Linked DNA regions of Homo sapiens. The protein of the gene in region 1 purifies or fractionates together with the protein of each later gene. This does not show direct contact. Each region holds a gene or a part of one and is shown in the gene's direction. Other genes may lie near its edges.

Region 1 (3,753 bases):
TTATAAGCATAAACCCCAGCATGTCTGGGTACTTCTTATATCAGCTTCAACTCATGCCACTCTCCCCCTCATTTTCTACATTCTAGTCACATGACCTTCTTGCAGGTTCTCAAAGCTCTTCCCCAACATGCCGTCCCCTCTGTCTGGTACACATTCCCCTACATACTTTACCTGCCAAACCTTACTCATTTTCCCAGATGCAACTTAAATGTCACTTCCTCCAAATCCCACTCTAAACTGAGTGCCCCAACTATTCAATCATAGCACTCTGCATTATCAGGTATGATGCCTTTGGATGCGAATAACTGAAAAACCAAACCTATCAATAGAGTTTTTAATATCAGGGAGGCTTTTGGGCATGGAGAATAACAATCACCACTATGTGTACTTTTGTTTAATGCTTACTTTATAAACTTTAAAATATATTAAACAGTATTTCTGGGAAATACTGTCTGATGCCATCCAATGCAGTATTCACTAACCACATGTGGCTATTGAACACTTGAAATATGACTAATCCAATTAAGGAATTTAATTAGGAATTTTTTTAATTTAAATTTTGGAAAAACTAAAGTGTGTGAACCTATTTTTTCAACTGCAAACTTTATAAAATCTAAACACAGATCCAATATTTCCAATTAAAATCAGGCAACTGAGATCAGTGTATGCATGTGAAATACATATCGAATTTTCAAGACTCAGTATAAAAAAATGTAAAAATTATCTGAATTTTTATATTGACTACATGTTGAAATGAGATTTTGGATATATTACGTTAAATAAAATATATTACTAAAATTAATTTCCTCTTTTTTTTTTTTTTGAGGTGGAGTCTCGATCGATCCCCAGTCTGGAGCGCAGTGGCTGATCTCGGCTCAGCGCAACCTCCGTCTCCCGGGTTCAAGCGAGTCTCCTGTTTCAGTCTCCCTGGTAGCTGGGATTACAGGCGCCCACCACCGCGCCGGGCTAATTTTTGTATTTTTAGTATAGACGGGTTTTCACCATGTTGGTCAGGCTGGTCTCGAACTCCTGACCTCAGATGATCCGCCCGCCTTGGCCTCCCAAAGTGCTGGGATTACAGGCGTGAGCCACCGCGCCTGGCCTCATCTGCAATTTTACTTAAATCACAAATATACTAGATCTTCTTACATGCTTCGAAGAACTAAAAAAAATAAGACATGAATTATCACAATGATTACCGAATTAATTGTAAATTTTTTTATTTAAACTAGTCACAAAGGTATCACAGGTATGACTTACACCTAACGGGGGCCAAAAGATGGGTTGCGAAACGAATGACTGAATTATCCCTAACAATCTTGGGAAGAAAACAGGATTGGCCAGGCCCATCCCGAGAGGTCCACGTCAGGCAGGGGCCCCGCCCACCGCGGGACCAAGCGGCTACGCCTTCCAAGTTTTCATTCGGGGCCGCGCCAGCGCTGAGGAGAGTCAGACGCCAGATGGTTCCGAAGGTCCTGCAGGCTCTCGGGGCACCCTACAGCCGACACGCCAACAAAAGCTTCGGAGCCGCCAACCCCAAAACGGAAACACCGGAGCCACAAGCTGAGCTCGCGTAGGGCACGCTCCCCCGGGAGTGCTTCCGGGACAGGGGGCGGGGTCGCCGGAAGTGGCCGTCCGCCGTCCGCTGCTCGTTGTTTAAGCGGCTGACGGGAAGGAGAAGCCAGAGCTCCAGCGGCGCCGCGGGGCGGCAGTCAAGACCAGAGCCGGAGCCGTCACTCACCTCTGGATTAGCCTGAAGCGGAGACTACCGGCTGCGGAGCGGCGGGGCGAGACACTTGCTCGCCTTTTGACCCCATCATGTCGCGGGGCTCCATCGAGATTCCCCTCCGGGACACTGACGAGGTAAGTGTCGTGTATGGAGGCGGGTGGGGGCCATGAACTTGTACGATCGCCCCCACCGACTTCGCTCGACTTCGTTTCTGAAGCGAGAGCATCCTCCTTCCCTAAGAGCCCTGATCGAAATACCTGGCCAAGGTCTGATCATCATCTTCTTCAGCCCCTGTGCCCTCTCAGGCTGGGGGCACCGCGTCTCTGCAGCCTCAGGGCCACTCGGAGAAGGAGTTCTTGAAAGTTCCTCTCCAGCCTGTTCGAATTTGACAGTGCGCTACTCTTTTCCTAACCAACCCACGGGAGCAGAGGTGTGAGAGTACCCGATAAACTGTAAAACACCTCGCAGATTACAGAGGTGGGCGCTGATGTTTCCGGGGTTTATATGCTTGCTGCTCAAACTCGAGATCTTTCCCTGGGAATATATAGGAGGTCGCCTCTTCTCCCTTAGAAACTCGAGTCTGTCATGGTGCGCTGTGTTCTCTACACCAACTCTCCTTCAACGAGATATCCCAAGATTTAGCCGCCCCTGTGTGCTGATAAAATTTAACCTCCTCTCGCTTACCTATGTCTCATTCATGGGTGGCCTGTGGCTTGTCTGAGTAAAGCTCTCAGCTTTGATGTTCAGTCTTCTTGTATATCTTTTATTTTTATTTTTTTTGTTTGAGATATAATATTGAGGTATAAAATTCAGTGGTTTTTAGTGTATTCGCAAAGTTGTATAGTCATTACCTCTAATTCCAGGACATTTTCCTATTATTATTTTTGTGCTTACAGTCAGGACTGTCTGTTACACGCAGGTGCCACCTCCATGATTAATGTGTGCAGTGGCATTCAACTTTGCATGGCTTGTAGGGTCATGCATCTCAAGGAGTCAGACCTATGGCATAATAGTCTCTAGGGTGCTTATCTGCACTTTACTTGGATTCTATGTTAAGTAGGATTTTGTTTTGTTATTTTTTAGTAAGCAGACCATTTCTAGTATTTTATAGTTCCAGTGATCTGGGGACAAGTAGCAGGGTTTGTTTGCTTCTCTGTGCTTTAACTTTATTATAGTATAACCTATTCGTCATGTGCTCCTTAAACATTAACATGGATTAGCTCAACCGTATTGAAAGTGAACACGTACTCTATGTATATGCATGTTGATTATATTCACGAAAAGCAGCAAAGATGAAATGTGAATTTTAAAGTGGAATAAGAGTTAAGACCTACCTTTTGTATTTTAGGTCATTGAACTTGACTTCGATCAGTTACCGGAGGGAGATGAAGTTATCAGTATTCTGAAACAGGAACACACACAACTGCACATATGGATTGCTTTGGCGGTCAGTATTCATGTAGCAAATATTTTTTATTTGTTGACTAGGAAAATATGTAGTTTCTGTTTTCAGATATAGTAATAGCCAGCTTGGCTGCATGGTAGATTAGTTATACCATGTGTATGGAAGTTAATTGTGTTAATAATTTATGGAACAATAAGGCCGTTTTCCTAAATGATATGCTGCTCTACTGGTGAATTAGTATATGTTGGTAAAGGCAAAATTCATTTAAGTAGTACTCTATATTGAATATTTTATTATTTAGTGCTTGTTCAGTGAAGGCTGGCTTATGGTTTATAGATAAGCTGAAAAGAAGCGAAGTGCTTCTGTGTGAACATTGCTGCTTAACATTGTTTCCTATAACAACAAAACACTTCCCTTAAAATATTCTAGAATGTGATTAGGTTCTGGGAAAATCACTTCACCCAAAATCACAAAAGTTCTTTTGGGTGAAGTTTATCTCAGACTTATGTTTTTTGTCCTATTTAGTCTCCTTCAATGTGAATCTTACTGGAGATTCTCAAGAAAATCCAATCAGAAACCCTAAAATTCTATATCCTCTACTTGCCAGCATCAGCTGCAT
Region 2 (3,753 bases), on another chromosome or scaffold:
AGCATAAGTTAATAGAAAACCGCTTGAAAAATAAATAGGGATGGTCTGGTTACTGTTGAAATCACAGTGAAATATGTTCTGATTGGGTCACATTTCAAATGTTAGGCAGTTTTCAACTGTGCATATTGATTCAGAAAATGGGCCCGGCCTTTGATATTTGACTAAGTTTCCCTATTCTGCAATAATGTCATAGTGGGGCATTGAGCATTTGCAATCTGAAGAAACACCACTTGAAATAGAAAGTTATGGGGGTTATCACCTGTCAACATTTATGTCAGCATTTGCCCTTCTGATTTTGAACTGTTACGGTGTATATAATGTATGTAATAATAATGCTTTTTTTTTTGAGACAGGGTCTGACTCTGTAACACAGGCTGGAGTACAGTGGTGAGACCTCGGCTCACTGCAGCCTCTGCCTCTGGGCTCAAGCTATCCTCCCACCTCATAGCCTCCCGAGTAGCTGGGACTACAGGCACAGGCCACCACGTCCAGCTATTTTTGTTTTCTTGGTAGAGATGGGGTTTCACCATGTTGGCCAGGCTGATCTCAAACTCCTGACCTCAAGTGATCTGCCCACCTCAGCCTCTCAAAGTGCTAGGATTACAGGCGTGAGCCACCACACCTGGCCTGCAAATATAATTTTAAGAGCTGTTTTTGTTTAATAATATGTAATAGTATTGGGTTTTGTGTACATTTTAACGTATTTGCTCTAATACATAAATATTTCAGAACTGCTTTATTTTCCTTTCTGTTTATACATCATGTTAACAAGATAAAATTGGGAAATTTTTCAATAAGTTCGCCGTAAGTCTTTGGTAGATACGACTGAAACAAATAGGAATGATAAAGATGCAAAGATTTAAGAACTTTCTATGCCTTATATTTTTCTTGATTACACATATGCAGAAAATTGTCCAATTTTTAGTAGGTGTGATTAGAGATTATATTGACTCTGTCCTTTGACAGCAACATTAGCATATCATACATTCAACAGGTATTTATTGAGCACCTAATATGTGTCAGACTTTTTGCAGGTGCTTTGGACTTATCAGTGACTAGAAGTTAAAATCCTTCTCTTCTTAGGTTTGTTTTTCCAGTAGGAGGAGAAAGACATTAAGCAATAAACATTTTTTTTTAATTGTGTAGTCTGCTAGAAGATAACAAATGCTGTGAAGAAAACAGATAATTAGAACAAAGGATGGAGGGCAGGCTTTGGTGTTAAATAGGGACCATATAGGTCTTTTATTAAGAAAGTGACATTTGAACCAAGGTGTGAAGGGAGGCAAAGGAATAGCCGTGTGGATATGGACGTTTAGGGGAAGAACATCCCTGGCAAAGACCCCAAGGTGAGAGTGTGCTTGATATCTTCAAGGAGCCAGTGGAACTGAAATGGGGTCATTAAGGGGTAGGGGAGGTCAGAGAACTAAATGCGGGTGTGGAAAAGGCTCATCTTTTATATATTTTGATGTCACTCAGGTTTTTTCTGTGCTTTTAAACATTCAGAATAAATTCCAATATTTTAATTGATAGTTGGAAGTTACTTAATAATGTATATGTTGTTACAGCCAGTGCATTTAGTGCATGATATTTTAAGTTTCCTCTTTGGAAACAGCATTCAGAGATTAATCATGGTCAGTTTAGAGCCCAGTAGGGTAGTCATCTCATGGCCTCATGGTGCAGTTACAAGTTCAGGTTACCCTAAGCATCTTTGTTTTTTTATAATATGGATTCTAAATAAATAAGTGTGGCTGTTTTTGAAAATTTGGAAATCACAGACTGTCCCAGACTTAAACTATAATTTGACTTAAAAATTTTCAACTTTGCGATGTTGCAAGTGCTGTATGTATACTTTGAGTACCCATACAACCGTTCTGTTTTTTCACTGTATTCAGTAAATTACATGAGATACTCAACATTCTATTATAAAATAGGTTTTGTGTTGGGTGATTTTGTCCAACCGTAGGTCTTACCTCTGTAAGTGTTTGGAGCACATCTAAGGTAGGCTAGGCTAAGCTGTGATGTTTGGTAGATTAGATGTATGAAATGCGTTTTTGGCTTAATTATATTTTCAGCTTACTATGGGTGTATCAGGCTGTAACCCCATAATAAGTTGAGGCACTCCTGCATCTGTGAAGTTTAAAGAAAAAAATTAAAACCAGCATAGTCCAACTACAGAAATGACTATGAGCCTTTTCACATTATTTATCCTGCAGTTTCATTCTGTCCCAGGTATATGACGTCTATATATTTTAACTTTACTTGAGATGTTATTATATATATTTTGTGTCTTTCTATGTATATATTTTGAGACAGAGTCTCACTCTGTCCCAGGCTGGAGTGCAGTGGCATGATCTTGGCTCACTGCAACCTCCGCCTCCCAGGTTCAAGCAATTCTCCTGCCTCAGCCTCCAGAGTAGCTGGGATTACAGTGCGCTACCACGCCTAATTTTTAGTATTTTTAGTAGAGACAGGGTTTCACCATGTTGGCCAGGCTGGTCTCAAACTCCTGACCTTGTAATCCACCGGCCTTGGCCTCCCAAAGTGCTGGAATTACAGGTGTGAGCCACTGTGCCCAGCCTATGTATTATTTTTTATCTCTTCACTTAAGATGATACTTTTAAGTGTTTCCCCACGTCATTAAAGATTCTCAATAAGCGTAATGTTTAATGGTTTCACAATATGGATGCAGCATCACTTATTCAGCAATTTTCTAATTGTTGTCATTTATGCTGTTTAGCTATTGTATTAAATAACTGAAGCTGCCCTGAAGATTTTTGTACATAAACATTTGTGATCATTTTTTATTGTTTCCTTAGAAAGCTGCCAGGAGAATTAACGAGATTAGAGACTAAGACATTTTAAGGCTCTTCATAGAAATTCCTCTCCAGGAAGGTTATGGTAATTTGCTAAACCACTAGTACTTCAAGAGTGCCAGTTGTACTGTGTATAAGTGTTGAGTTCTGTATTAATGTTCTTTTGCCTGTTTAAAATGGCTTTTAAGAAGACATTTTGTTTTCTCATTAAACATTTTTTTTTAGAAGTAATGGGATGTTAAAAGAGTACGGTTGCATTAAATGAAGCAGTGCAAAGGCCGGGCGTGGTGGCCCTTGCCTGTAATCCCAGCACTTTGGGAGGCCGAGGTGGGTGGATCATGAGGTCAAGAGATCGAGACCATCCTGGCCAACATGGTGAAACCCCGTCTCTACTAAAAATACAAAAATTAGCCAGGCATGGTGGTTTGCGCCTGTAGTCCCAGCTACCTAGGAGGCTGAGGCAGGAGAATCTCTTGAACCCGGGAGGTGGAGGTTGCAGTGAGTAGAGATCACACCACTGCACTCCAGCCTGGCGACAGAGCGAGACTATGTCTCAAAAATAAAAACAAAACAAAAAAAATGGGGCAGTACAAATTACAGGTCCAAAGCCTGAAAGATACTAGTTTCCTCTTGAGGCTGTAACAACTTGATACAACTTGGTGGCTTAAAACAACGAAAAATTATTATCTTATAATTCTGGAGGTCAAGTCCAAAATGGGTCACACTGTACTAAAATCAAGGTGTCCCAGGGCTGTGTTCTTCTCTGAGGGAAGATACATTTCCTTGCTTTCTTCAGTTTGTAGTGGCTACCTGCATTTCTTGGCTGAGGCTCCTTCCTCCATCTTCAAAACCAGCAGCATAGCATCTTCACAACTCATTTTCTGACCTCTTGTTTCTGTCATCATATCTCTCTCTTACTCTGACCTTCCTGTATCCCTCC

Evidence for each region. Proteins that work in one complex are often made in the same cells at the same time.
Region 2: the proteins of CTR9 (region 1) and IWS1 purify together in Homo sapiens (affinity purification with mass spectrometry; 2 studies listed by BioGRID and IntAct, with this or other methods). This does not show direct contact.

What each region holds. Positions count from the first base shown.
Region 1 is NC_000011.10:10,749,595-10,753,347, forward strand, and holds the start of CTR9 (RNA polymerase-associated protein CTR9 homolog), read left to right. Parts: upstream 1-1,651; 5' UTR 1,652-1,818; coding exon 1,819-1,863; intron 1,864-3,077; coding exon 3,078-3,176; intron 3,177-3,753. UniProt on the Homo sapiens protein: Component of the PAF1 complex (PAF1C) which has multiple functions during transcription by RNA polymerase II and is implicated in regulation of development and maintenance of embryonic stem cell pluripotency.
Region 2 is NC_000002.12:127,519,803-127,523,555, reverse strand, and holds part of IWS1 (protein IWS1 homolog), read left to right. Parts: intron 1-3,753.